Homo sapiens: one gene and its partners. The protein of the gene in region 1 purifies or fractionates together with the protein of each later gene. This does not show direct contact. Each region holds a gene or a part of one and is shown in the gene's direction. Other genes may lie near its edges.

Region 1 (3,500 bases):
CATATCCCACACCTAGGAATATGCTCCATCCATGTACCGGATGACACAGAAAGTTGTGTTTTGATTGGGGCCCAGAGCAGGAAAGGGCTCAGCAGAAGCTCCAGGCTACAACACAAGTGGCCATGCGGTGTGGGACAGATGAGCTGGCAGAGCCCAAAGTACCCGAGGTATCTGTGGTGGGAACAGATGCCTGTGAAGTTTATGACAAGACCCTACAGGAGAATCACAATGTAGACACCTGGGGTTCTGGAGCAGGGCCATGCCATCTGTAGCCAAGAATTTTATACTTCTTAAGAAACAACTCTTGATGCTACAGGGTTCTGGTAGAGACAGATCATCAGACCATGGATCATCAAGTTGACCATGTGACCAAAGCTGTTCATCATGAGCTGGATTCTGCCATATCCACCAAGTCATAAGGTCAGGCAAAGCCAGCAGCAATTCCTAAGATAGAAATAATACAACTGGGGTTGGGCATAGCAGGGCCAGAGGGCAGAAGATAGTTACGTGAGCAGGTGGCCCAGACATCTATGTCATCCACTACCTTTGCACCAGTACCTGCCTGTTCCTCATTTCACACCTTTGGCTGCCTGGGGAGCTCTTTATAATATCCAGCTGATAGAAGAGAAAAAAAGCCATGCCTTATCCTTAGATAGGTCAGCTCAGTGTGTGTGAGCAAGACAAAAAAAGACCGTGGCTGCACTGCAGCCCCACACAGGGGCATCCTTGAAAGACAGCAGAGTGGGGAGTCCTTCTAGTGGGCATAGGTTGTGCATCATGCACCTAGCCATCCACTGTATGTGGAAAGAGAAGGAGCCTGAGCTTAGACTATACATGGATCTCATGGGCAGTGGTGAATGGCTTGGCTGGTTGGTAAGGGGTCTGAAAGGAATAAGATTGGAAAATTGGAAACAAGGAGACCTGTGGTGGAGGCATGTAGTTGGACCTATAGGAGTGGGCACCAAGTGTGAAGATCATTGTATTCCATGTAAACACCCACCAGAGAGCACATACCATGGAGAAGCACTAAACAACAATGTACACACAGTTGACATCAACCAGTCTCTGAGGCCACCCCAGAGCTGACACAATGGGTGTATAAACAGCAACCATGGTGGTGTAGTAGTCCATTTTCACACTGCTATAAAGATACTACCTGAGACTGGGTAATTTAAGAAGGAAAGAGGTTTCATTGACTCAAATTTCTACATGGCTGGGGAGGCCTCAGGAAACTTACAATCATGGCAGAAGGCAAGGGGAAGCAGGCATCTTCTTCACAAGACAGCAGGGGAGAGAGAGAGTGCAAAGGGGGAACTGCCAAACACTTTGAAACCATCGGATCTCTTGAGAAGTCACTCACTATCATGACAACAGCATGGGGGAAACCGGCTCCGTGATCCAATCACTTCCCACCATGTCCCTCCCTCAACACGTGGGGATTATAATTCGAGTTAAGATTTGTGTGGAGACACAGAGCCAAACCATATCAGATGGTATGGCATGGCTCCCACTCACCAAGACTGATCTAGCTATTGCTGCTGCTGAGTGTTCGGCCTGCCAGTAACAGAGACCAACTCTGAACCTAGATATAGCTCCATCCCTTGAGAACAACCAGCAGCCACTTGGGAAGTTGGCTATATTAAACCCTGTCTACCCTGGAAAGAGCTGTGATTCATTTTCACTGGCATAGATGTATATTCCAGATACGAGTTCATCTTCACTGCTTGTAGAGCTTCATCCAGCACAACTCTCAAAGGGCTTATAGAATGTTTAATCTACTGGGATAGATTATGGGATCTATAGATTATGGGATAGTCATACAGGATCCCATATGATTCCACAGCAAAGGAGGTGCAGCAGTGGGCACATGGTGACAGGGTCCACTTGTCCTTTCATCTACTGCGCTATCCTGAAGCTGCCAGCTTGCAACTGTGTCGAAGGCACAGCTGGGGCACCAGCTCAGAAACCCTGAGAGAAGAGCTGCCATCCTCCAGGGTGCAGCACATGTTCGAAATCAAAGACCGTTACGTGATGCTTTGTCTCCAATAGGTAGAATACATGAGTCCAGGAACCAAGAAATGAAAGCAGGAGTGCTCTCACTCTTACCATCACTTCTAGTGACCCACTTGGAGTGCCTCCTGTTCTCATAGTTCTGGGCTCTGCAGGTTTAGAGGTTTTGAGTCACAAAGGAGGAACACTTCCACTAAAAGAAACATCAAGATTACTATGAACTATTAGCTGTGACTGCACCCGGGCACTTGAGCTCCTCATATCAGGAGACTACTAGGCAAGAACAGTCACCATTCTTTGAGGGATAATTAATCCTGATCATCAGGAGGAGGTACAGCTGCTGTTAAGCAATGGAGGGAAGGGAGGTATATCTTTGGTACTCAGTTGATTCACGTGGAGACTTCTTGGTATTCCTTTGCCCAATTTTTTTTTCTTTTTCTTTTTCAGAGGTGGAGTCTCTGTCACCCAGGCTGGAGTGCAGTGGCACCATCTCGGCTCACTGCAACCTCTGCCTCCTGGGTTCAAGCTATTCTCCTGCCTCAGCCTCCCGAGTAACTGGGATTACAGGCATGTGCCACCATGCCCAGCTGATTTTTGTATTTTTAGTAGAGATGGAGTTTCGCCATGTTGGCCAGACTAGTTTTGAACTTCTGGCCTCAAGCAGTCCACCTGCCTCAGCTTCCCAAAGTGCTGGGATTACAGGCGTGAGCCACTGCGCCTGGCCCCTTGCCCAATATTTATAAAATAATTATACAAGTGCCCAGACCGTGACCTGAGCAGGATATGCTGACTTCAGGCTCAGCCCCCTCAGGGCTGAGGGTCTAAATCATGCCTCCGTGGAAGTGACGGAGACCGGAACACGTGCTGGCTGAGGGTAAGGAGGATCTAGAATGGATAGTAGAAGAGGGAGATGATGAGTATCAGTTGTGGCCTCAAGACCAGTCAGTGATGGAGGTTGTAGTTTGTCCAACTTACTTTCCTAAGTTTCCCCCAGGAAAGGAGGTCCACCAGAACTTAAACCAAAAAGTAGAGCTGAGCAGCACAAATGTGGGCTGTAGTGGACACCATCCTGTGCTGCCCAGACCCCCCAGCCACCATGCTTCCTGGGCCTCTTCCCACAGCTACTGGGAGTGCTCTCAGCCAGCAGCCTTCAGCTGTCAGCCCCCTGGGAATTTTCCTCAATGGAAGAGTTACCTCACTGACATACCCCTTTCCCAGGCAGGTCAGTTCAAGGTTATGAAGGCCTGGCCCCACTGCCTCAACTTGACAACTTGGAAGGGCCATCTCAGCTTCAAGACCCTCCCATGAGACTGGCTGAGGTCTTCATACAGCATCGGAGCCCAATTTATCTCTCTGAGCAATCCTGCTTCCTTTCCTGCCCCCTTCCCAAGAGCAATCCCTGATAAACTTCCCGCATGCTAATCTCCATCTCAGAGTCTACTTTCCAAGGAAGTGGGCCTATAACATAGCTCTTCCAGTTTTTGTTAACA
Region 2 (3,500 bases), on another chromosome or scaffold:
TTTGGTAGATCTAGAACCAGAACCCAAGTTTTCTATTTAGAATTCTTCATATCTTTCACTATTGTTTTCTCTCTTAGGCTCTACTTATCTGAAAATTTTAGTTAGAAATCAACTAGATAAGCAGCAGATTGGGAACATTGTGAATGATTCCAGTTTTTTAAACAGTTTTATTAAAGTCTAATGGATTTATAATAAACTGCACATATTTGACATTTACCATTTGATAAGTTTTATCATCTGTATATACCTGTGAAACCATCACCACAATCAAGATTAATGAATACATTCATCACCTTCTGAAAGTGTCCTCTGTACCACTCCCCACAAGTCCCCCACCCCACCCCTAATCCCTGTGCCAGACAACCACTGGTCTGCTTTTTGACACTAGAGATTGTTTTACATTTTCTAGAGTTTTATATAAATGGAATCACACAATATGTACTCTTTTTTTGGTCTGATTTCTTTCATTCAGCATAATTATTTTGAGATTTATCCATGTTGTAGCATGTATCAGTAGTTCATTCCTTTTCATTGTAGGATAGTATCCATTTTATGGATACACCACAGCTTGTTTATCCATTCACCTGTTAATCAACATTTTGATTGTTTCCAGTTTTTTGTTATTACAAATAAAGCTGCTGTAAACATTTGTGTACAACTTTTTATATGGACATATGCTTTAGTGATTCTAATTTGTTTCATTACCTTATAGCTGGAATACTACAAGCAAGGAAAAACAGAAGAGTTTGTAAAATTGTTGGAAGCAGCACGTATAGATGGCAATTTGGACTATAGAGACCATGAAAAAGACCAGATGACTTGCTTGGATACATTGGCAGCGTATTATGTACAACAGGCTCGGAAAGAAAAGAATAAGGACAATAAAAAGGATCTTATTACACAGGCCACCTTGTTGTATACAATGGCCGATAAAATTATTATGTATGATCAGGTAAAAATAAAGTCAAATTTCTTTCCATTTATGAAGGGAGAAAAGCACATGAAAGCAAAATGTGTGTGATAGCAGATTTTTTGAAAGAGTTTTTCTTCAAGTAACATGGTTGATAGAGTCAAAAAGAAGAAAGGTTCCTCATTAAAATCGGAATGCTTTGGTTTTTGTACTGTTTAAGTAATATGGACAAATGTAGTACATAAAACTTGCTCCAGTAATTTTATTATCTCCAGGTGAATTTCAAGGATATTTTAAGGAATTTAAATTTTTCTTTTGGTTGTTGTTATTGGCACAGAAGACTTACATTTCAGGATAATTTCTTATTTTGTAATTAAGAATTGCTTGTTAGTAGCTTAAGCACGTTACATTTGATAGGGGAATTTGCACTGTGCTCCACCTCCTTCCTATTTGGTTTTCACTTTAGTGTTACATGTTCATGGTATATAGGGGTAAAATCTAAGATAATACATTACTTCATAGAACCATTTGTTGGGAAGAGCCTGCTTCTGCCTACTTGAGGGTGACAAAATGGATCAAGCTGATGCACAGTTTCATTTTGTACTCAATCAGTCTCCAAATAATATTCCAGCCCTTCTTGGTAAGTGGTCTTTGGCAACATGTTAGGAAACAGTTGTTTTCAGCATATGCCTAGAATATATCTCTTGGTAATAGCTCCTTAATAACTCAGCTAGACAGCAAAGTAGAAGAGCTTTATGTTGTTACAAATGAAATTACCTACAACAAATATTGTTGAAATTGTAGAAATAAAATATATACCAGTTAAGAATAATTTATTATTTAGGCCAGGCATGGTATAATCTCAGCACTTTGAGACCCTGTCTCGTTATACCTGTAATCCCAGCGCTTTGAGAGACTGAGGCAGGAGGATCACTTGAGGCCAGGAGTTCAAGACGAGCTGGGGCAACATAGCAAGACCCCATCTCTACAAAAAATAATTTTTTCAAAAAAGAGTAATTGGTTATACACTTCTGAAGAGCCAATAAACAATCTCTACTTAGACAACTTAAAGTTATTTCAATTATTACTTTATAACATTTTTTAAACTTTTATTGAAGTTCAGTGGTACAAGTGCAGGTTTGTTACATAGGTAAACTTGGTCATGGGGGTTTGTTGTGCAGGTTATTTCATCACTTAGGTATTAAGCCTAGTACCTATTAGTTATTTTTCCTGATCCTCTTCCTCCTCCCACCCTCCACCCTCCAAAAGGCCCCAGTATGTGATGTTCCCCTCTGTGTCCATGTGTTCTCATCATTTAGCTCCCACTTATAAGTGAGAACAGGCAGTATTCAGTTTTCTGTTCCTATGTTAGTTTGCTAACTTTATAACATTTAACATAAAAATAGGAAGTTTTATTTTTAGACATAAATTAGTATACTTTTATGAAAAACAAATTTTTAATATGAAATTTTGTTCTGTGTTTTCAAGTATTTCTCACTCAGAGATGTATTTAACTTAGATAAGTTAGTGTAAAACATAATAGACTTGTAGCCTTTAATCAGACACTGTGTTTATTTTTAAAAATCATTACAGGTAAAGCTTGCATTTCCTTCAACAAGAAGGATTACAGAGGAGCTCTTGCTTACTATAAGAAAGCATTGCGTACTAACCCAGGATGTCCAGGTAAGAGAAAAATTTTATTTTATGTCTAAACTGTGTATTACCCAGCTTAAAGCATTGAGGATTTGTCAGTTGCTTATGAAGTTATGAAAAGATATTGTTGGATTATAGAAATGTCAGAATCAAGTTTTTTTTTTGATGCTATGTTTGAGTCAAAAGCTGGATAGTAAGGCCAGGTGCAATGGCTCATGCCAATAATCCCAGCACTTTGGTAGGCAGAGGCAGGACTACTTGAGCCCAGGAGTTTGAGACCAGCCTGGGCAACGTAGTAAGACCCTGTCTCTACAAAAAATAAAAAAGTTACATGAGCATGGTGGCACACACCTGTGGTCCCAGCTCCTTAGGAGGCTCAGGCTGGAGGATCGCTTGAGTCTGGGAGGTTGAGGCTGCAGTGAGCCATCATTGTGCCATTGCATTCCAGCCTGGGCAACAGAACAAGACCTTGTCTCAAGGGGAAAAAAAAATAGATAGGGTCTGGCTGCACTGGTTCACACCTGTAATCTCAGCACTTTGGGAGGGTGAGGTAGAAGGATTGCTTGAGCCCAGGAATTTGAGACTAGCCTTTGCAACAAAGGGAGACCCCCATCTCTACAGAAAATCAGCCGCACATGGTAGTGCTTGTGGTCGCACCTACACAAGAGGCTAGGCAGGAAGATCACTTGAGCCTAGGCATTTGAGGCTGCAGTGAGCCATGTTCATGCCACGGCACTCCAGCCTGGGCAACAGAGCCAAGACCCTGTCTCAAGAAAAAAAAAGTCTGGATAGTAGATTATAATATAATCTTTTTGCCCTATACTATTTTTCTTTCCAAAATGTCATTCATGTAGCAAATTTTTACTGAGTACCAACTATGTGGCAGGCAGTGTTCTAAACCCTGAGAATGTAGCAATTAACCAAAGAGACAAAAGTT
Region 3 (3,500 bases), on another chromosome or scaffold:
ACCATATATAATGTTTATATTACGTTCATATAAAATTGTCCTTTTACTCTTGGAATTCGACATACTGTTAGGATTTTCACAAATTAGTTTAAGGCAGAGCAGGACAAGGCCCAGAAAAGGGTGGCTGATGTAATCAGGAAACTGGGTAGGTTCTATTTGAAGATGATATAAAAAGAAATAAAACTGTTTTGAAAAAGATGGGGTCTTAAGAGAAGATAGTAAAAAAGTTTATAAACAGAGTGCTTGACCTTCTTTTCCTATTCACTCACTGCCATAAAGATAAGAGAGGGGCTTATTTAGGGGAATATAGTAAGTTTGTTAAATCCCAGCATTTAAATATTGTAAGGTACTCTTGGAGCAGGTGTTATTAAACTTTTTGGTTTCAAGATACCTTTACCATATTAATAATTACTGAGAACTCTAAAAGGCTTTTGTTTTTGTGTTATATCTATCAGTATTAGAAATTAAAACAGAAAATGTAAAAATATTTATGCATTAAAAATGTGGGCCAGGCACAGTGGCTCATGCTTGTAATTTCAGCACTTTGGAAGGACGAGGTGGGCAGATCACTTGAGGTCCGAAGTTTGAGACCAGCCTGGGCAATGTGGTGAAACCCCATCTCTACTAAAAATAGAAAAATTAGCCGGGGGTGGTGTTACGCACCTGTAGTCCCAGCTACCTGGGAGGCTGAGGCAGGAGAATCAATTGAACCCAGGAGGCAGAGGTTGCAGGGAGCTGAGATCACGCCACTGTACTCCAGCCTAGGCGACAGAGCAAGTCTTCATCTCAAAAAAAAAAAAGTGAACCCATTGCATGTTTGCGTTATTCATGAAAAATTTCCAAAATAAAACCAGATAATTTTAGCAAGTTTGAAAAAATGTCTGGCCTAATATCTCATATCTGCTTCTGTATTCAGTTTTTGTGACATCACATCATCTCTGGAAGACTCTCTTACTATGCAATGAGAGAATGAGAGTGCAAAAGGAAAGTGACATCTTATTATTACGAAAATAGCTTTGACTTCACAGGACCTTCTGAAAGGGTCTCAGACTTCTAGAGGTCTCCAGACTATACTTTGAGAAGTGCTGTTTTAGAATATTGGAAAAGTAGGTTATTATATTTATTTGGAGAATTGTTTAAAAAGTGATGATAGGCCAGGCGTGGTGGTTCATACCTGTAATCCCAGCACTTAGGGAGGCTGAGACGGGCAGATTGCTTGAGATCAGGAGTTCGAGACCAGCCTGGGCAATATGGTGAAACCCCATCTCTACCAAAAATAAAAAAAATTAGCCTGGTGTGTTGCCGCATGTCTGTAGTCCCAGCTACTAGGGACGCTGAGGTGGGAGGATTGCTTGAGCCCAGGAGGTAGAGAATGCAGTGAGCCAAGATGGTGCCACTGCACTTTAGCCGGGGCAACAGAGCAAGACTCTGTCTCCAAAAAAAAAAAAAAAAAAAAGATGACAGCTTACAAGATAACTAGAAAGGGTATAAATACATTTTTTAAACTGGTACATCTGTGTTTATTTATTTTTTTGTTGGTTTTGGAGACAGAGTCTTGCTCTGTTGCCCAGGCTGGAGTGCAGTGGCAGGATCTTGGCTCACTCCAACCTCCACCTCCCAGGTTCAAGTGATTCTTGTGCCTCAGTCTCTGAAGTAGCTGGGATTACAGACACGCACCACCAAGCCCAGCTACTTTTTGCATTTTTTAGTAGAGACGGGGTTTTGCCATGTTGGCCAGGCTGGTCTCGAACTCCTGGCCTTGAGTGATCTGCCTGCCTCAGCCTCTCAATGTGCTGGGATTATAGGCATGAAACACGGTCCGGCCTGTATTTGGATTATTGAAAAAATATGTCCTTGATTTTAAAAATTTATTTTTAGAAATAAAATTAATAAATGTTTCTGCTTTAGAATATGCAGAATCTTTTAAAGAGAAAAGAAAATTACTCTTAGCATTCACTACGTAATATTTGCAAATACACATAATTAATATTATACTTTTAATCAAATTCATCTTTTTTATGAATATTTTCAAAACATAGAAAGGCACAGAGAATAGTTTAACAACTGCTCCATCATTAACCAGGATTGGCATGTTGTTGTATTTGCTTTTGGCTCAGTTCTTTTTCTGCCTCCCCAGAGTCACCCATCTTCTGAATTTGAACCATATTCTCCCCACTCATGTTTTTATACTATATATATCTGTGTGTTCATAAATAATAACGTCATACTGCTTTGCATGTTTTTAAATTATAAATATTTTCCTAAGTTCATCTTTCACAGCTTGCTTTTTTTACCCTTATATTCTTGAGATTTATATATGTTGATATTTATTTAAAATGCTGTATTTCTATACTGCAGTTTATTCTGCCATTGATGGCTAATTTAGTGTTTTTGTTTGGTTTTTTTGGCTATTAAATAAATGGTATCATGAACCTCCTTTTGGAGGCTCTCTTGAGGATATGATGTAGAGCATCTGGTTTGTAGGGTGTCTGTGTTCTTACCTTTATTGGATATTGCCAAATTGCTTCTAAAAATGTTCATACCATTGTCATCCCCCACCAGCAATATATAGGAGCTTTCATTTCTCTACTTTTTTTTTTCTTTTTTTTTTTTGAGGCAGAGTCTTGCTCTGTCACCCAGGCTGGAGTGCAGTAGTGGTGCAATCTCGGCTTATGGCAACCTCCGCCTCCTGGGTTCAAGCGATTCTCCTGCTTCAGCCTCCTGAGTAACTGGGACTACAGGCGCCCACTACCATGCCCAGCTAATTTTTGTATTTTTAGTAGAGACAGGGTTTCACCATATTGGCCAGGCTGGTCTTGAACTCCTGACCTCGTGATCCACCTGCCCTGGTCTCCCACCACACCCAGCCGGTTTTTTCTTTTTTAACTACAAAAGACATCCAACATTTCTCTACTTTCTTGCCAGTACTTGGTATTGTCAGATTTTTAATTTTATATCTTACATTTTTTATTTTTATATCATTAATGTTGTATTTTGAACCCTTTCCCTCATTCTTTAGGGTTCTTTGAAAATGATTGTCAATGGCTGTAGTTTATGAGTGTACTATACTCTAACACATATGGTGCTCTTGTCTATGTGGGTTTTCTCATTCTTTTGCTATTTTAATGTGGCTAATGAACATCTTAATACATAAATTCTTCTGATTATTTCTTTCTTTCTTTTTTTTTTTTTTTTTGAAACGGAGTCTCACTGTGTTGACCAAGCTCGAGTGCAGTGGTGTGATCTTGGCTCACTGTAGCCTCTGCCTCCCAGATTCAAGCAGTTCTTCCTGCCTCAGCCTCCTGAGTAGCTGGGATTACAGATGCCCACCACCATGCCTGGCTGGTTTTTGTATTTTTTAATAGAGATGGGGTTTCAACATGTTGGCCAGGCTGGTCTTGAATTCCTGACCTCAGGTCATCCGCCTGCCTCAGCCTCCCAAATTGTTGTGATTACCGGCGTGAGCCACTGCACCCGGCCTGAGTCTTTTTTCTTTTCTT
Region 4 (3,500 bases), on another chromosome or scaffold:
TAGTTTCACTAGAAGTTTTCATACATGTACCATACACATAAAAATATTGTAATTAGGAGCATTCTTTCCTGAATGTCTTTGCTGTGCCTGTCAATATTCATGTATAGGAATCCAACTATTTTCTTCCTTGTGCGTCACAATTTAGTGTTTTCTCTTTTTGCGTTAAAAGATAATTTTCAAAAACAACTAACATCATTCTCATATGGATGTAAAATGAACATGTGTTTTTATTAAAGATTTAAACTCATTAGTAGAGAGAAGACTGATATTATGAGGTGATCAAAGAAGGAGCCAAAGAATCATCACATTTACAGATGAGGAACATTGAAATGAATGTATAATGAGCAAAAAACTGGCTTCTTCCACATTGGAGGAGGAAAGTCAATTGAACCTCCACCCAACAGGATTTTGCATATCTATAGACAAGAATTATTTTCCATTGCTCTCAGTTATCTACAACATACAGAGTTATACCATAGCTCAAAGGCAGTGAATGGCTGGAATCTTGGGAGAGTAGATTTAGACAATGCCATAGTTCAACTGAAGCACAATTTTTTCCCTACACCCAGTAAATTCCCTATGCCTTAGTATTATGCTAAGGAAAATGGAAGAAACCAAGTGATAACAAGTACATTGTTGATTTTTGTATGAAAACAGTGTCAAAATTTTGTTTTAACCATTTGTAGTATGGTTCTCCCTAAAAATTTTATAGGATTTATGACATTACTTTGGACTGTGGCCTAAGTATTTAACGTTGCTAGATAAGTAAACTGTGACCTCAGCTGCATGGTTCAGAATCACAAATACATGCCCTAAAGTCCATACAGTAATGATGACTGGCTGCTCTTTATTGAACAGATTGGTACATTAATAATGATGATCTTGAGGTCAGGGTTAATTATATTCAAAGGTGTTAAAATGGTAGTAAATAAAGATTAGAGTTAGTATAGTATCGTAAGATAAGGTAGAATTGGTTGGGAGAGATCTTAGAATCTTAAAGGGGCTCTACTGGGAAACCGGCCGGAAATGTGAAGAAAAAAAGGAGAGCTGGAGTAGACGGACATTCCTTTGTTATGATGATTCAACTTTCCTAGAAGCTTCTATTTTAGATTCAGCAAATACTCTTAGTTCTCTTGTATCTTGGAAGTTAGAATGGTATCATTTGTATATATTTAAGAAAGCGGGCATCTTTCATGCTCTTATGATTATGTAAAAGCCTTTCTAGAGAATGGAGTTTGGGAAGAAACCTAGAGTAGCTAACTAGGAATATCATGTTTCCATATTTGTATTTGAGGAAGGGAGAAGATAAAAAGAAGGTTCCATGACACTCCAGCCCTTTGTATTCTTATGCTTGGCAGCTTTTAAATTTATTGCAAGTGATTCCTAAGGATGCTGTTCTTGAGCAAGCTTGTACACCTCTGTTTTTTGTTTTTTGTTTTTTTTTTTTGAGACAGAGTCTTGCCCTGTTGCCCAGGCTGGAGTGCAGTGGTGCAATCTCGGGTCACTGAAACCTCTGCCTCCCAGGTTCAAGTGACTCTTGTGCCTCAGCCTCCTAAGTAGCTGGGATTATAGGCACACAATACCACACCTGGCTAATTTTTTTGTACTTTTAGTAGAGATAGGGTTTCACCATGTTGGCCAGGCTGGTCTCGAACTCCTGACAAATGGTCCACCTACTTCGGCCTCCCAAAGTGCTGGGATTACAGGCATGTGATACCACACCTGGCTAATTTTTTTTGTATTTTTAGTAGAGATGGGGTTTCACCATGCTGGCCACGCTGGTTTCGAACTCCTGACAAGTGATCCATTCACTTCAGGCTCCTGAAGTGCTGGGATTACAGGCGTAAGCCACCATGCCCATCCCTTGTACACCTCTTGATATTCAGTTTGTCAGTTGTAGATGGTTAACTTTCATAGTCCTAGCTTTACTGAGAAGATCTTTTGAATTTCAGGTAAAAAACATAAGAGTGAATTTCAGCTTCTGGTGGATCAGGCTAGAAAAGGATACAAGAAAATTGCTGGAATGTCACAAAAAACAGTAACAATAACAAAAGAAGATGAATCTACAGAAAAGCTATCTTCTGTATGCATGGGTAAGAGACTATAATTAAAAACAGACATATGTCGAATTTCATTATTTACTTTTAATATGAAAAAATTAAACCAAAGAAATTTACTTTGGAGTTCTTAGTTCTTTGAAATGAGAAAAAGTATTTTTAGACAAACTTCATGTAGCAGTTTGTAAACTAGATTTATTACTATGGGGAAAGTGGTTGGAAGAATGTCCTGAAGAAACAATCTCTTTTTGTCTATCGTCCTTTCAGTTAATGATAAATCATAAATTTCTTTGTTATTTAAGCTTCAGGATGTTTTCTAGATATAGAATTTATTGGTGGAGATCCTGTAAAGAGAGTGAATTATTTTTGTGATAGAACACTGGTGTTTACTTTGGATGAAATGTTCTGCCAAACAGTCTAAAGTTAACATACCTGGTAGGCTAATACAGAGCACGTTCCTTAACTTTGATCCATTTTAAAATTTGAAATTGATATTTTAATTCTATTGCCTGGGCTTTGGACCAGTGAACAAAAAAGAATCATAATGGGGGAAAGTGCGCAAGAAAATTGCTTATTATGTTTTTCTATATTGTGGTAAAATATACATAACACAATGTTTATCTTTTTAACCCTTCATAAATGTACAAGTCATTGGCATTAAGTACATTCACAATATTGTGTAACTATCACCACTGTCTATATCCAAAACATTTTCATCATTCCCAGCACAAACTTTGCACTCATGAAATAGCAACTCTTCCGTCCCCTCTGCCTCATAGCCCTGGTAATAACAATTCCACTTTCTGTGTCTATGAGTTTGCCCATTCCAGGTACCTCATATAAATGGAATTGTATAATATTTGTCTTTGTGTGTTGGCTTCTTTCTCTAAGCATAATGTTTTCAGAGTCCTTCAATGTTGTAGCACATTTTAAAATTTTAAAATATTTTAAAATTTTTGATTAAACAGTATTCCATAGTATGTATATGTCATATTTTGTTTATCCATTTATCTGCTATGGTTATTTCCACCTTTTGGTTCTTATAAATAATGCTGCTATGAGCATTGGTGGTCAGATATTTAAGTTTCAGCTTAGAGTGCGATTTCTGATTCATATGCTGGTTCTATGTTTAGAACCTTTTGAGGAATCGTTAAACTTTTCCATAGTGGCTGCATTATCTTACATTCCCACCAGCGAAGCATGAGGGTTCCAATTTCTTCACATCCTCATCAATGCTTGTTATTTTCTGATTTTTAAATTTTTTAAAAATTGTAGATGTGAAGTGGTATGTCATTGTGGTTTTGATTTGCATTTCCCTAGTGACTAATAAACAATTTGTGCATAAAGTGCTGCCTCAGTATGTAACTCATGGTCATTGAACAACTCGAACTTGTTCATGCAGTTGTTAAAGGATATTTCTAGAAACTAGTTTAGCACTTGAGA
Region 5 (3,500 bases), on another chromosome or scaffold:
AGTGCAACTTGGCATTCAAGAAATACTTGGTGTAGGAATGAATTTCCCAACAAAGTCAGTTTCAATTCGGGGCTGTTAAAATCTCCTGGAAGTGTGCCATGGAACAAGGTTCAGAAAGTACTGGAAGAATTGGTGCCCGAGTGGTAGAACAAACTAAAAATACAGACTTGAGCCAAGCGTGGTGGCACGCATCTGTCACCCCAGCTACTCGGGAGGCTGAAGGAGGAGGCTCACTTGAGCCTAGGAGCCCAAGGCTACAATGAGCTGTGATAGTGCCACCACACTCCAGCCTGTGTGACATAGCGACCCTGTCTCTAAAAATAAATAAATATAAAAATACAGACTTGGATAAAGTTTTGGAGGGCTCTGGACTTTAGAACTGTAGATTTGATCATGTGTCATGATGTGGAATCAGGGAAGGGTTTTAAACAAAGGACTTACCCATTATGTGCTTTAAGAAATCCCATAGCTCGCCGGGCGCGGTAGCTCACGCCTGTAATCCCAGCACTTTGGGAGCCCGAGGTGGGCGGATCACGAGTCAGGAGTTCAAGACCAGCCTGGCCAACACGGTGAAAGCCTGTCTCTACTAAAGATTCAAAAAATTAGCCAGGCGTGGTGGCACGTGCCTGTAATCCCAGCTACTCGGGAGACTGAGGCAGGAGAATCGCTTGAACCCAGGAGGCGGAGGTTACATTGAGCCGAGATCATGCCATTGTACACCAGACTAGGCGACAGGGCAAGACTCCATCTCCAAAAAAAAAAGAAAAGAAATTCCTTATCTCCACTTCTTCCCCTTGGGTTGAGTGATAGTTGGAGATTATAGGAGGAGGAAGAGGTTTGGGCAGATAGGAATGCAGAAAATTTTTTTTTGCGTATGTATTATGATGTATGTAAAAATACATAATCTTTCCATATGCATTATGATATATATAAAACTAAGGTAACAAGTTGTGAGGAGTGGGTAGGTTGGCTTGGATAGTGGGTAGGTAGGGTTGGAGGAGGCAAATGATATGGTGGAACAAGGACCTTGAAATCAATCCAAAACCCAGGTTTTCCTAGGAAGGCCACCAGGAGCCATGGTGAGCCAACTGTTGCGCAGGGATAGTGCCTCAGCAGGAGACTTGGCAGAAGGCAGACAGAAGGAAGATGGGAACACTGGTAGTCCTGGCAGCGTTGAGGAGGCTCCAGCAGAGATCCAGTGCTAAGGGCCCTAGAGGGGCTGGTGGCATCCCCTCAATCTTGGTCCTCTCTCCCCAGAGTTGTGTGGGACCCCAGGGTATCTAGCGCCAGAGATCCTTAAATGCTCCATGGATGAAACCCACCCAGGCTATGGCAAGGAGGTCGACCTGTGAGTTCCTGGTCTCCCCCTCCCTCCCGTGCTTGCTGTCCTTTGCTGGGTCTGCCCGTCACCTAGTCCCGCCTGACTCCAGTCTCTTTCCCAGCTGGGCCTGTGGGGTGATCTTGTTCACACTCCTGGCTGGCTCGCCACCCTTCTGGCACCGGCGGCAGATCCTGATGTTACGCATGATCATGGAGGGCCAGTACCAGTTCAGTTCCCCCGAGTGGGATGACCGTTCCAGCACTGTCAAAGACCTGGTGAGCGGGGGCTGAGAGGACAGTAGGGGAGGCCCAAGAGCTGCCCCTCATGCTCTGGGTCTCTCCTAGATCTCCAGGCTGCTGCAGGTGGATCCTGAGGCACGCCTGACAGCTGAGCAGGCCCTACAGCACCCCTTCTTTGAGCGTTGTGAAGGCAGCCAACCCTGGAACCTCACCCCCCGCCAGCGGTTCCGGGTAAGCCTGAGTGTATCAGGGTCTGGGCCCGTTTCTCTGTCCCATGATCTTTCCCCTGCACTAGAGCTCACCCTGCCCCCCTTCCCAGGTGGCAGTGTGGACAGTGCTGGCTGCTGGACGAGTGGCCCTAAGCACCCATCGTGTACGGCCACTGACCAAGAATGCACTGTTGAGGGACCCTTATGCGCTGCGGTCAGTGCGGCACCTCATCGACAACTGTGCCTTCCGGCTCTACGGGCACTGGGTAAAGAAAGGGGAGCAGCAGAACCGGGCGGCTCTCTTTCAGCACCGGCCCCCTGGGCCTTTTCCCATCATGGGCCCTGAAGAGGAGGGAGACTCTGCTGCTATAACTGAGGATGAGGCCGTGCTTGTGCTGGGCTAGGACCTCAACCCCAGGGATTCCCAGGAAGCAGAACTCTCCAGAAGAAGGGTTTTGATCATTCCAGCTCCTCTGGGCTCTGGCCTCTGGCCTCAGGCCCACTAATGATCCTGCTACCCTCTTGAAGACCAGCCCGGTACCTCTCTCCCCACTGGCCAGGACTCTGAGATCAGAGCTGGGGTGGAAGGGAGCCATTCTGAACGCCACGCCTGGCCCGGTCAGTGCTGCATGCACTGCATATGAAATAAAATCTGCTACACGCCAGGGAGAACAGGTGTCCTGTGTCTGTCTGGCTTGGGCAGGAAAGCCCAGAAGGTGCTCAGCAGGGTGCAGGGATGGTGCCATTCTGGCCCAGACCTTTATTGGGGAAAATGTTGGGGGTCACTTGGTCTTGCTCTTGCCTTTACCCGGAGGTAGCTGGAAGGGCCGCTCTAGTGCAGTCAACTTGCTGCTGAGCCTTTCCTCGCTGGCCTTGAGCCGCTCCTCCACCAGCCCCTGGAGCTGCTCCAGCTCTTTGTTCACTTGGGTCTTGATGTAGGCTCGGAGGACGTGGATGTGGCCTGCAGGGGCAGGGAAGAAGGGGCAGGGTGAGGAGAGATGCTGTCTGGCAATGGGGGGATGGTCCCTAGTTGGGCAAACAGTCCCCAAATTTCCCCTGGTGGGGATATAGAGGTAGCAATGTTGTTTCCCTTTAGGAAATGTTAGCAAGCCCTTGTGTGAGAGGTAGTTGGGTAGGGTGGCTATGCTGGACTTTGCAGCTTCAAATTCTGATCCCTACTCAGTAGCTGTGTGACCTTAGGCAGGTTATTTAACCTATCTGTGCCTCAGTTTCCTTGTATGAAATGTGGATAGTGATACCTAGCACATAGGATTGAGGGAGGATTAAATGAGTTAATTTATGTAAAATGCTTAGAGCAGGGCATGCACTGCACACCTATTGCCAAGTATGTGCTGGCTGTTATTGTCATTGGCTTTCTCTTTTTTTTTTTTTTTTTGAGATGGAGTCTTGCTTTATCCCCCAGGCTGGAGTGCAGTGGCAGCGATCTCAGCTCACTGCAAGCTCTGCCTCCCAGGTTCATGCCATTCTCCTGCCTCAGCCTCCCAGTAGCTGGGACTACAGGCACCCGCCACCACGCCCGGCTAACTTTTTGTATTTTTAGTAGAGACGGGGTTTCACAGTGTTAGCCAGGATGGACTCGATCTCCTGACCTCGTGATCCGCCTGCCTCAGCCTCCCAAAGTGCTGGGATTACAGTTGTGAGCCACTGCACCTGGCCTGTTCTTTGTTTTTTTTTAACTCTTAAGTTCTGGGATACGAGCAGAACATGCAG
Region 6 (3,500 bases), on another chromosome or scaffold:
ATCTCCTGACCTTGTGATCCACTCGCCTCGGCCTCCTAAAGTGCTGGGATTACAGGCGTGAGCCACCATGCCTGGCCCATAATCTTAATATATTGTGATTTATTAAGATGTATATGGTTGAGAGTTATGAATGACATAGTTGACAGATAACTTGAGCAGGAAGAATAATACCTCATCTGAACTGGGAAAGGAGGAGGAATGGGTCAATATGTTTATGGTAAATTTCCAGAGAGTGCTGGAAGTGGGAAGTTGAAGGAGTTCAAACCAGATTTATTTTCTTTTTAGTGTAGGAGTGAGATCTTAATACATAGGCCGGAGGTATATTTGGAGAGCTAATTGATGTTGGTGTATAAGAAGGTTATAGTTGGTTCTTTTCTTAGAGGCTGACTTTTTTTTTTATATCAATGATTTAACAGGTTTATCATGACAGTGAGGAAGGTCAGAGATACATACAGTTTTATAAGTTAGGGGATTTCCCCTATGTTTCCATATTGGACCCACGGACAGGTAAGATTTATATCAGCACGCAGCTTTTAACCTATTACTTGTCTTTCAGTTACCTAAATGATTGATCTTTAATATTTGACTGGATCTGTTTTCAGAATTGCAGTAATTTAGGTGAAGGTTTCGTTTTTTTCCCTTTATAATTATTTAAACATCTATTGATGTATGTATTTAGGACATCTTTTTCTGGCAACATTGGGAGATGGTAGTATTTTATGTTTGTGCAGTTCTGTTCTTTTGAAGAATAACTGATATGTTCATCTTACCTTTTTTAAGGGATTTTTTAAAAGTTTTTTTACCAGCTGGGCGTGGTGGCTCATGCCTGTAATCCCAGCACTTTGGGAGGCCGAGGTGGGCGGATCATGAGGTCAGGCGATCCAGACCATCCTGGCTAACACGGTGAAACCCCATCTCTACTAAAAATACAAAAAAAATTAGCCGGGCATGGTGGCGGGCACCTGTAGTCCCAGCTGCTTGGGAGGCTGAGGCAGGAGAATGGCCTGAACCCGGGAGGTGGAGGTTGCAGTGAGCCGAGATCGCGCCACTGCACTCCAGCCTGGGCAACAGAGTGAGACTCCATCTCAAAAAAACAAAACAAGACAAAAGTTTTTTTTATCATTAAAATATTAAGATTGCCCAGATACTAGTTGTAATCCCACCTGAGAAGCAGAGGGTGGAGCTGGTTTTATTAATTGATGGTGTTTTATATAGATATTGCTTTGTCTGAATCTCTTCTTCCTAAATGGCAGTAAGTGATAGCAGCAGATAAGATAGTTGCCCTATCATTACGGGTGGGAATCTGTTAGGTGAGTATAATTGATGTGACTTCTAGGTTATGAAGACACTATGTAGCATAAGCTGGTGGAGAGGATATGTCTTTACAGTACACTTTATGCATGTGCTGAAAGAGATACTTAATGAGAATGTTCAGAAAGATCCTAGATATTATATTTACAGATCCTGGTTTTTAATGTATGCATATGCTGAAAGAGATAATGAGAATGTTCAGAAAGATTCTAGATATTACCTTTATAGATCCTGGTTTTTAATCTATGCATATGCTGAAAGAGATACTTAATAAGAATGTTCAGAAAGATTCTAGATATTACCTTTATAGATCCAGGTTTTTAATCTATGCATATGCTGAAAGAGATACTTAATGAGAGTGTTCAGAAGGATTCTAGGTATTATATTTATAGATCCTGGAGAATGTTCAGAAGGATTCTAGATATTATATTTATTTATAGATCTTGGTTTTTAATCCTTAGGTCAGAAGCTAGTAGAATGGCACCAGTTAGATGTATCTTCTTTCTTGGACCAAGTGACGGGATTTCTGGGTGAACATGGACAACTGGATGGACTTTCTAGCAGTCCCCCCAAAAAATGTGCCCGTTCAGTAAGTATAATTAGGAGGTGGTGATGGGAAAATAAATGTAATTGGTCATAAGCATCTTATATAAAATGTTCGATGTTAAGATGGTAAAGATAATCTAACTAGTGGACAACTATCACTGTGGCTATAGCATCTTAGATATCCTCCTTATATTTTGATAATTTCCCACATGAGAGTTCCATCTTCTTGGTGAAATCATGATACTCATACTCCTGCCAGTCTGTCTTGCAGCTAGAGTGCAGGCAGATGCCCCAGGATCTGGATTTAGAAGGAAGCAATGTGAATAGGTTGGGCAGGAGGACTGACCTGGCAAGCCTAGTGGTAAAGGTGTCTACTTCCTGAGGGGCAGCTCTGGGAGGGCTTCTGATATCCAGGTCTAAATAGCAGTGAAAGTGGTTGGTTTTTTTGTGTGTTTTGTTTTTTGTTTTGGAGTGGGATCTTGCTGTTTTGCCCAGACTGTCCTAGAACTCCTGGGCTGAAGCAGCCTTCTCACCTCAACTGCCCGAATAGCTAGGACTACAGGTACATGCCACCACAGCCGGCTGGAAGTGGTGTTTTTTGTTTTTGCTGAAACAACTGTCATGGTATAGTTGAGCATTTTTATTGGTTAATATAGCTTTAGGGCCTGGCTCTCTGGCCCTCCTAGAATTTACTTCTATACTTAATTTCTAGAATATACTATTACTAGGTAGACATGTTTGATAATTGGTATCAAGATTGGTTGCAAATAAGAGACTGAACTTGCAAAGATACAGCAATCTCACATTGGTTTTCATGGCTGTTTGGCTTTGATAGCAGTAGGGATAAAAATAGTTTTGTTTTGTTGGTTTTTTTTTTTTCCTTTTTTTGAGCCAGAGTCTTGTTCTGTTGCTAGGGCTAGAGGGCAGTGGTGTGATCTTGGCTCACTGCAACCTTCGCCTCCTGGGTTCAAGCGATTCTCCTGCCTTGGCCTCCCAAGTAGCTGGGATTACAGACGTACACCACTGCATCTGGCTAATTTTTGTAGTTTTAGTAGAGATGGGGTTTCGCCTTGTTGGGCAGGCTGGTTTCAAACTGCTGACTTCAAGTGATCCGCCCTTCTCGGCCTCCCAAAGTGCTGGGATTACAGGCGTGAGCTAACGCGCCCGTCCTGTTTTTTTCTTTGGGCAGGATCTTGTTCCATTTCTCAGGCTGCAGTGCAGTGGTGTGATCATGGCTCGCTACAGCCTCCACCTCTTGGGCTCAAGCGATCCTTCCACCTCAGCCTCCTAAGTAGCTGGGACCACAGATGTGCATCACCATGCCAGCTAAGCTGTTAAAGTTTTGTAGAGACGGAGGCCTCCGTATGTTGTCTAGGCTGGTCTCAAACTGGCCTCAAGCAATCCTCCCGCCTCAGCCTCCCAAAATGTTGGGATTCTGGGTGTGAGCACCACACCTAGCAACATTTTTATTGTATTGTATTGTATTTATTGTATTGTATTGTATTTTTTGAGATGTGGTCTCACACTGTTGCCCAGGCTGGACTGCAGTGGCATGATATTAACTCACTGTAGTCTTTGCAGCCTTGAGAGAACTTTAAAAAAAAAAAAAACTTGCTAGCCTTGAACTCCTGGGCTCAGTCAAT
Region 7 (2,628 bases), on another chromosome or scaffold:
GGTAAATTTTGCTGCTTGTCAAGGGCACACACATTGTTTCATTACCAACAAATACTGATCCTTCAGATCTAAATTTTGGGTTTGGTTTAACCTATTTAATGTAACAATGCTTCTTTTATTTTTATTTACTTATATATTTTAATTTTTTACTCTTCCTCTTAATTATTTACAGTGCTGCTTTTAAATAATATTTTGCATTCAGAAGATAGAGAAATGTTTGAGTCTTTCAGTTTCTAAGTCTGAAAGTTTGAGGCTTGTTCAGAATAGTGATAAGAAAAGAACACATTCAACCAAATGTTACTCTTCCTTTGTATGCTGTAAAGTATAGACAGAGCTCAAATATTAACTTTTTAAGAGATGAGACATTTCTGCAGTACTGTGATATTTGGCCTTTATTTAAGTGGTCTTATTTAAGGTCAACTCTAGTAAATCAAGATGTAAAGTTTTGAAAACTGAAGATGGAATTGCTTTCATTTCCTAATAAGAGATGCTTTATAAAATTAAGGTTGTTTCATCAATATTAGATATGTTCAGAGAAGTAACCTTTTGCCTGAAACTTATTTTAATGGCAGTCTCCATTTATCCACAGGTGGAGGAAACCTCAAGAGAAAGGGAGGAAAGGCTGAGAGGATGGGAGGCTTTCCTCAATGCTCCTGAGGCCAACAGAGGCCTTAGGCGTTCAGATTCTGTCTCTGCTTCCGAAAGGGCAGGGCCTTCTAGAGCAAGGCATTTTTCAGAGCACCCCAGCACATCTAAAATGAATGCTCAAGAAACTGCAACTGGAATGGCGTTTGAAGAACCTATAGATGAGAAGAAGTTTGAAAAGACAGAAGATGGGGGAGAATTTGAAGAAGGTGCTTCTGAAAACAATGCTAAGGAAAGTAGCCCCGAAAAAGAGGCTGAAGAAGGCTGCCCTGAAAAAGAATCTGAAGAGGGCTGCCCCAAAAGAGGGTTTGAAGGCAGCTGCTCCCAAAAAGAGTCTGAAGAAGGCAATCCCGTAAGAGGATCTGAAGAGGATAGTCCTAAAAAAGAGTCTAAAAAGAAGACACTCAAAAATGATTGTGAAGAGAATGGCCTTGCAAAGGAATCTGAAGATGACCTCAACAAGGAGTCTGAAGAGGAGGTTGGCCCCACAAAAGAGTCCGAAGAAGATGACTCAGAGAAAGAGTCTGATGAAGACTGCTCTGAAAAACAGTCTGAAGATGGCTCCGAAAGAGAATTTGAAGAAAATGGTCTCGAGAAAGATTTGGACGAGGAAGGTTCTGAAAAGGAGCTTCATGAAAATGTTCTTGACAAAGAGTTAGAAGAAAATGACTCTGAAAACTCCGAATTTGAAGATGACGGCTCTGAAAAAGTGTTAGATGAGGAAGGCTCTGAGAGAGAGTTTGACGAAGATTCAGATGAAAAGGAAGAAGAGGAGGATACATATGAAAAAGTATTTGATGATGAGTCTGATGAGAAAGAGGATGAAGAATATGCAGATGAAAAGGGGCTTGAAGCTGCTGATAAAAAGGCGGAAGAAGGTGATGCAGATGAAAAGCTGTTTGAAGAGTCAGATGACAAGGAAGATGAAGATGCAGATGGAAAGGAAGTTGAAGATGCTGACGAAAAGTTGTTCGAAGATGATGATTCCAATGAGAAGTTGTTTGATGAGGAGGAAGATTCCAGTGAGAAGTTGTTTGACGATTCTGATGAGAGGGGGACTTTGGGTGGTTTTGGGAGTGTTGAAGAAGGGCCCCTATCCACTGGCAGCAGCTTTATTCTCAGTAGCGATGATGATGACGATGATATTTAATCCCTTAAACTTGCTTTTTAGGGAGAGTCCTCCATCTACATTTGCCTGTGCTTCAGGGTAATTACTAGTAGTGTTACATGAACATGTGCATAGTGGTAGGATGCCATCAGATTAAAGCATTGAAGTGTTTCATTGTTACCTGTACCTAATGGTTTTAAATATATGTTAATTGATTGTTTAGTTAAAATGTCATAGTTACAATGCAAGTAAACTGGATACTTGTTCTTTTGTCAGATTTGTTAAATGCATGCAGAATAATATTTTTAAGAGTATTGATTGAAGTTTGTGATATTCATCAATAAAAATGAGTTGATAATATGCAGAAACTGAAAATTGGACTTGAGTTAAATTGCATTTTAAATTCTTGATATTGCTTTATTTATACTGAAGGTTGGCTTTTCTGAGGACTTGAAGAATCTCTTTGGAGTCTCCTTGCTTCCCGCTGGTATTAGCACGTATGTCTCCATTTCCTCTCTATAAACCAGAACATGTTCCTAAACTCAGAAAACAACCCTCTGGATTTTTTTTTTCTGCCCAGTCCTTGCAAATTAACTCTTGTTTGTTTTCTACCCTCTTTCCATTAAAATTGACTCTCAGATGTGCAAAAGTGAACTTCCTGCAGTCTACAGCTCCCATTATTATTAAAAATCTAAAGAAACAGATTAGAATTCTACCTTGTACTGTTAGCGTCTCTGGGCCCCTTTAGAAGTTAATTCAAATTAGAGGACCTCTTCCCAGAAAAAAATGTACACACTACACTACACAACTTGTGTACTGTTTGGGGAGGTTCATGGATTCCCTGAAGTTGAAGAACTTCATGCATGCTTCAGTTG

Evidence for each region.
Region 2: the proteins of TCEANC2 (region 1) and CTR9 purify together in Homo sapiens (affinity purification with mass spectrometry; one large-scale study listed by BioGRID and IntAct). This does not show direct contact.
Region 3: the proteins of TCEANC2 (region 1) and DCAF1 purify together in Homo sapiens (co-immunoprecipitation; 3 studies listed by BioGRID and IntAct, with this or other methods). This does not show direct contact.
Region 4: the proteins of TCEANC2 (region 1) and RAD18 purify together in Homo sapiens (affinity purification with mass spectrometry; 2 studies listed by BioGRID and IntAct, with this or other methods). This does not show direct contact.
Region 5: the proteins of TCEANC2 (region 1) and PHKG2 purify together in Homo sapiens (affinity purification with mass spectrometry; one large-scale study listed by BioGRID and IntAct). This does not show direct contact.
Region 6: the proteins of TCEANC2 (region 1) and UBXN7 purify together in Homo sapiens (affinity purification with mass spectrometry; 2 studies listed by BioGRID and IntAct, with this or other methods). This does not show direct contact.
Region 7: the proteins of TCEANC2 (region 1) and HTATSF1 purify together in Homo sapiens (affinity purification with mass spectrometry; 2 studies listed by BioGRID and IntAct, with this or other methods). This does not show direct contact.

The regions. Positions count from the first base shown.
Region 1 is NC_000001.11:54,102,108-54,105,607, forward strand, and holds part of TCEANC2 (transcription elongation factor A N-terminal and central domain-containing protein 2), read left to right. Parts: 3' UTR 1-3,500.
Region 2 is NC_000011.10:10,754,246-10,757,745, forward strand, and holds part of CTR9 (RNA polymerase-associated protein CTR9 homolog), read left to right. Parts: intron 1-712; coding exon 713-952; intron 953-1,432; coding exon 1,433-1,550; intron 1,551-2,503; coding exon 2,504-2,593; intron 2,594-3,500. UniProt on the Homo sapiens protein: Component of the PAF1 complex (PAF1C) which has multiple functions during transcription by RNA polymerase II and is implicated in regulation of development and maintenance of embryonic stem cell pluripotency.
Region 3 is NC_000003.12:51,423,516-51,427,015, reverse strand, and holds part of DCAF1 (DDB1- and CUL4-associated factor 1), read left to right. Parts: intron 1-1,007; exon of another isoform or gene 1,008-1,106; intron 1,107-3,500. UniProt on the Homo sapiens protein: Acts both as a substrate recognition component of E3 ubiquitin-protein ligase complexes and as an atypical serine/threonine-protein kinase, playing key roles in various processes such as cell cycle, telomerase regulation and histone modification.
Region 4 is NC_000003.12:8,900,973-8,904,472, reverse strand, and holds part of RAD18 (E3 ubiquitin-protein ligase RAD18), read left to right. Parts: intron 1-1,952; coding exon 1,953-2,093; intron 2,094-3,500. UniProt on the Homo sapiens protein: E3 ubiquitin-protein ligase involved in postreplication repair of UV-damaged DNA. Postreplication repair functions in gap-filling of a daughter strand on replication of damaged DNA.
Region 5 is NC_000016.10:30,754,925-30,758,424, forward strand, and holds part of PHKG2 (phosphorylase b kinase gamma catalytic chain, liver/testis isoform), read left to right. Parts: intron 1-1,257; coding exon 1,258-1,348; intron 1,349-1,442; coding exon 1,443-1,596; intron 1,597-1,665; coding exon 1,666-1,791; intron 1,792-1,879; coding exon 1,880-2,173; 3' UTR 2,174-2,551; coding exon of another isoform or gene 2,552-2,730; 3' UTR 2,731-3,500. Other genes in the region: CFAP119 (cilia- and flagella-associated protein 119), read right to left, coding at 2,552-2,730. UniProt on the Homo sapiens protein: Catalytic subunit of the phosphorylase b kinase (PHK), which mediates the neural and hormonal regulation of glycogen breakdown (glycogenolysis) by phosphorylating and thereby activating glycogen phosphorylase. May regulate glycogeneolysis in the testis.
Region 6 is NC_000003.12:196,366,428-196,369,927, reverse strand, and holds part of UBXN7 (UBX domain-containing protein 7), read left to right. Parts: intron 1-416; coding exon 417-507; intron 508-1,772; coding exon 1,773-1,900; intron 1,901-3,500. UniProt on the Homo sapiens protein: Ubiquitin-binding adapter that links a subset of NEDD8-associated cullin ring ligases (CRLs) to the segregase VCP/p97, to regulate turnover of their ubiquitination substrates.
Region 7 is NC_000023.11:136,510,219-136,512,846, forward strand, and holds the end of HTATSF1 (17S U2 SnRNP complex component HTATSF1), read left to right. Parts: coding exon 1-1; intron 2-589; coding exon 590-1,795; 3' UTR 1,796-2,128; downstream 2,129-2,628. UniProt on the Homo sapiens protein: Component of the 17S U2 SnRNP complex of the spliceosome, a large ribonucleoprotein complex that removes introns from transcribed pre-mRNAs.